Regions from separate parts of the Homo sapiens genome. Here region 1 is linked to region 2. Evidence: fine-mapped expression QTL. Tissue or cell type: unexposed skin. Region 2 holds a variant in brackets; the other region holds the start of a gene. All regions are shown on one strand. Distances are between the middles of the regions.

What was found. PIP is the estimated chance that this variant, and not a neighbour inherited with it, causes the effect.
Region 1: ACYP2 starts here. The variant in region 2 is fine-mapped to the expression of ACYP2 in unexposed skin (GTEx, PIP above 0.99).

Annotation. Positions count from the first base shown.
Region 1 is chr2:54,114,067-54,116,714 of GRCh38, forward strand. ACYP2 (acylphosphatase 2) reads left to right here and starts at 1,549. Exons shown (of 4, transcript NM_138448.4): 1 at 1,549-1,690. The coding sequence starts at 1,633. RefSeq lists silencers at 1,378-1,447, 1,938-1,997.
Region 2 is chr2:53,993,581-53,996,429 of GRCh38, forward strand. It overlaps a transcript of ACYP2 not described here. Among named protein-coding and RNA genes, the nearest start is that of PSME4, 24 kb to the left of the region's middle. The variant C/A (reference allele first, on the strand shown) is at 1,448.

The DNA.
Region 1 (2,648 bases), 120 kb after region 2:
TTGGATGATTTTTGGTGTTCTCTAATAGAATTGGCACAGTATATTGAATCAGATTGCAGTGGATTATTTTAACTGTGTGGCCAGATGCAGAGAAATATGCCAAGGTATTGAGGCCAACAAATAGAGAAATGCAAATTCTCACAAGTAAACAGATTTGGAATTCTAGAAGGTGGCAGATTATCAATAGCTGTATCCAGATCCTTTGGAGTGGTGGATGGTTTTATATTAAAACTTGGTAATAGCTCACCAGGAAATAAAATTCAGCCTTAACCTTCTAGGCAATTGGGATGTTGCTGAGAATAATCAAGACAATCAAAAAAAAAAAAAAAAAAAAAGGTCGGGTGTGGTGGCTCACACCTGTAATCCCAGCACTTTGGGAGGCCGAGGCAGGTGGATCACCTGAGGTCAGGAGTTTGAGACTAGCCTGGACAACATGGTGAAACCCCGTCTCCACTAAAAATACAAAAATTAGCTGGGTGAGGTGGCGCATGCCTGTAATCCCAGCTACTTGGAAGGCTGAGGCAGGACAATTTCTTGAACCTGGGAGGTGGAGGCTGCTGTGAGCTGAGATTGCACTACTGCACTCCAGTCTGGGAGACAAGAGCGAAACTCCGTCTCAAAACAACAGCAACAAACCCACACCAAAAAAACTGTATGAACAGCAGACAAGATGACTACAGTGTTTTTCTTTTGTCTGTTTCCACTAGCATAAAAGACTTCATATTTTTAAAAAGTTTCTTATCCCAGAAAATATCACAATCCGTTTAGAATACGAGTTCAGGCTCAATTCCTTCCTGACTGTACAGAAGAGCTCAAGATGTTGCAGACCTTATCTTAAAAGCTGGCTTGGTAGTCACCTAAACATTTCATAAATAATTTACTAACTCTCAAAACACTAAACACGCAGGCCCTTGATTTCAAAAGCCAATCTTGCTGGGATGGAGTGGGGTGGGGGACCTGGGATGGGGGATGAAAGGGGTTGGAAATGGGGAGATATTGGTCAAAGGGTACAAAGTTTCAGTTAGTGTGAATAATAAGTTCTGAAGATCTGTTGTCTAACATGGTGACTGCGATAAATGTATTGTGTCCTTAAAAATTGATGAGAGTAGATCTTAAATGTTCTCTTCATTAAAAAATGGTGCAATGGATACGTTAATTTCATTGATGTAATCATTTCACAATGCATACATATGTCAAAACATCACCTTGTACACCACAAATATACCCAACTTTTATTTGTCAATTACACTTTAATAAAGCTGGGGGAAGCCACTCTTTTTTTGGGCACAGCATCCGGCTTTTATTTACTAACTTTGAGAACAGAGTACCTTGATCAATTAAATGGTAGGGAGCGCTGTGGAGACAGCATCCTCCCCAGTCCGGGAAGAGAGGCCTAGGATGCCTGGGGCCCAGCGGCCTCTTCCCTCCTGGCGTCCCCGGCTGCCCTCGCTCCCAGGCCCCGCAGTCTCATTTGCCGCTTCCGACGCGTGACCCCGGCGCGCTAGCGTCCGGGACCGGTGACAGGCGCGGGGTGCGCCAAGCAGTCCCATGTGTCCCCTCCCTCTCGCAGCCGCCGCAGTCGCTGCGCCCCGAGCCCCTCTCCGGCTCCTCAACAGAGGGCTCGCCGCCGCCATGTCTACCGCCCAGTCACTCAAATCCGTGGACTACGAGGTGTTCGGAAGAGTGCAGGGTAGGAGGCCCCTCTACGGTGGGAGATCAAAAAGGTTATGGGAGGAAGGGGAGAAAGCTGTGAGAAGCGCCTCCCACCTAAAGTATGCCTTTTCCCGTTGTGGCTGGGACTTCCGCTCCGCCATGACACAGCAGCGGCGGCGGGGAGGGAGGCGAAACGCGCATGCGCCCGAGGACTTGGACGGGCGGAAGTACGGGAATGGGGAGGGAAGTGGGGGAGCGGGAGAGGAGGGGTCAGGGGACTGCTGAGGACCAGAAGTGGGCGGCTGCTGGGTGCGGGAGTAAGCGGCACGGGGGAATGTTGAAGTTGGGTAGGAAAAGAAGAGGGTCTTTTAACTAGTGGTCTCGTTGCTTGCCACTGAAGCTACCTGGGCTTGACTTGAGTTTTAGGAAGGACACTTAGATGGTTTAAGGTTAATTTTTCAGAGGTCAAACCTTTTTTTAGACCTCTTTGTAGCTCTTAAAAGAATGAAATTGTTATCTAATTTTTGTTTCATCCTAAGTTTAAGTAGTTGCCAAGTTTGTAATGTCTGGCTTGTTGAAAATATTGATATTTATAAATGAAAATATTAAGTCACTCTGAGATTTATGCAATGGAATATAAATAGGGTAGTGATTTAACATCCACCATCTTCATTTAAAATAAAACTCTTCAACAATGGGAAATTTTACTCATTTCTTTTCCTCTTTGAATTTGATTTTCATTTCACTTTTCCCACCGAATTACCCCATTGTTTTGCTTGAGGGTTTTTTTTTTTTTTTTGCTCACCCTATCATACTTTTCTGCAATATGTATATGTACATATATGCACATGTATGAATAAGTGTAATGCTTTTTCTTAATTTCCTTTGACAATAAGGCTCTCTTAGAAACAAATGCTGGTTCTTTGGTGCCAAAAAGAAGAACTAGCGCTCAAAGAATTTTCTCAGCAAGGCAATTTTACCTCTATAGAAGGGTG
Region 2 (2,849 bases):
CAGCTCCTCGGGAGGCTGAGGCACAAGAATCGCTTGAACCTGGGAGGCAGAGGATGCAGTAAGCCAAGATCATGCCACTGCACTCCAGCCTGAGCGACAGAGTGAGGGAAAAAAAAGGATGAAAAAAAAAAAGATTTGGGAATCAAAAGATAAGCTATTTCTGGTAGTCTCTATTTTCCCGGAGAAGTAGGCAACACCCTCAGTTGGGAGTAGAGGGTTGTGGAAAAGACGTGGAAGTTCAGAGAAAAAAAGTAGAAAGTTGAGAATTTGTAAAGTAAGGAAGAAAATAATTTGGGAAAGAGGATGTATAATATAGGAAACTGGGCCAGGCACGGTGGTTCACGCCTGTAATCCCAGCGCTTTGGGAGGCCGAGGAGGGTGGATCACCAGGTCAAGAAGTTGAGACCATCCTGGCTAACACAGTGAAACCCCGTCTCTACTAAAAATCGTACAAAATATTAGCCAGGCGGCTGGGCGTAGTGGCTCACGCCTGTAATCCCAGCACTTTGGGAGTCCAAGGCGGGCGGATCCCGAGGTCAGGAGATCGAGACCATCCTGGCTAACACGGTGAAAACCCTTCTCTACTAAAAATACAAAAAATTAGCTGGGCGTGGTGGCAGGCGCCTGTAGCCCCAGCTACTCGGAAGGCTGAGGCAGGAGAATGGCCTGAACCCAGGAGGCGGAGCTTGCAGTGAGCAGAGATCGCGCCCCTGCACTCTAGCCTGGGTAACAGAGCAAGACTCCGTCTCAAAAAAAAAAAAAAAAAAAAAAACGAAAAAAAACAAAATATTAGCCAGGCATGGTGGCACGTGCCTGTAGTCCCAGCTACTCGGGAGGCTGAGGCAGGAGAATCACTTGAACCCAGGAGGTGGAGGTTGCAGAGAACCAAGATTGCACCACTGCCCTCCAGCCTGGGTGACAGAGTAAGACTCAGAAAAAAAAAAAAAAAAAAGAGGAAACTGGCAGGAAAGAGGTCATGCTGGGGTGGACTATGAGAGGCAATAATTCGAAATTATATCGTGGAAATGCTTCAACCTCTACCAAGACCTACTTCAAAAGGAAAATCTTGTGTTGAGTAGCAGTTAAAAATGGAATAAGATATCAGACCTTCAACCAAATAGTTCTTAATAGCTCAAAACTACTATAGGATAGCAATTTTATTCCCAAATTATTCTAGAACTGAATATCTGAAACTCAGTGACCAAAAGCCAGTCAACCAATCTTCCACAGCCTAATACACACACATAAAATATACCTCTGGCATTACATTATAACTTCCCCCATCAAACAAAACAGGAAGAGTGGTTATGTTGGGCTGATAGTGTAAGATGGTCTGTCATGTAGCGTTTCCGTTATATTCTGAATTTGAGTTGGTATACCATGTGACAGTTCTTTATATATATGTTTTCAACACCGCTATGACAAGAGTGTCTTTCTGTTTTTGCGT[C/A]AGTGTCTCATGAAAAGAAGACATAAAGAATATTCAAAAGAAATTTTAAGAATCTTTGTTATCTGAAGGTCGTATCTTTAGTGCATGTTCTGTCTCTCATAGTTGCTAAACTCTAGCTGCAGCTCTTCTCTCAGAGAACTGCTCTGTCCTGCCCATCTATCCCATTATGACTTTCAGTTGTGAGATGAAGATATCTGTTTGAGAAAAAAAATTGGTTCCTCTAAATAGAGAAATGTCCAAATAGCTACTTTAGTCTCTTCTTTAATCTCAAGTTACATCAGAGAAAAGATTTCAGCATGTATAAAACATCCATATCTACAGTGACCTTGGTGTTTTTCTCAATGCATAAATCATCACATTTCTTCATTTTCTAGTGCATGAAATAATTAAACTTAAAATATCTTCTTTAATTCTAGACACAATTAATTCAATGCTATTATTTTTTATTTATTTATTTATTTTTTATTTATTTATTTATTTATTTATTTATTTTTGAGACAGAGTCTCTTTCTGTTGCCCAGGCTGGAATGTAGTGGCATGATCTCAGCTCACTGCAACCTCCGCCTCCTGGGTTCCAGGGATTTCCAGCTAATTTTTTTATTTTTAGTAGAGACAAGGTTTCATCATGTTGGCCAGGCTGGTCTCAAACTCCTGACCTCAAGTGATCTGTCTGCCTCGGCCTCCCAAAGTGCTAAGATTACAGGTGTGAGCCAGCTCGCCTGGCCTCAATACTATTAATTTTTTACTTATGTAAATTTTGTAGGGTGTAACTTCCCACATATTTCCAAAGCGTTTTTATATTTAACACTAAAGACCCACAATGGGCTGGGCACGGTCGTTCACGCCTATAATCCCAGCACGTGGGGAGGCCGAGGCGGGCGGATCACCTGAAATCAGGAGTTTGACACCAGCCTGGCCAACGTGGTGAAACCCTGTGTCTACCAAAATTACAAAAAATTAGCTGGGCTTGGTGGTGGATGTCTGTAATCCCAGCTACATGGGAGGCTGAGGCAGGAGAATTGCTTGAACCTGGGAGGTGGAGATGGCAGTCAGCCTAGATTGTGCCACTGCACTCCAGCCCGGGCAACAAGAGCGAAACTCTGTCCCCACCACCCAAAAAAAAAAAGACTCACAATGTACAAACGGCTATTCTAGGCATAGTTGGTTCTAAGAGAATAAGATTCCTTGATAGATACATCCAGCTTTTCTATTTAGAGTTGTGTAGTTTTGGGTCCTTCAGGAAGCAGACACTGAAATAAAGTTGGAAGTGCAAGAAGTGTAGGGGGTGGAATGGTGATGGGGATGTACACCTATGAGAGATAAAAAAGGAGGATGGAGGATTGGGTAAAGAAAGCCTTCAGATCTGGATGCTGATCTGATATCTGTGAAAGGAAAGAGGGGA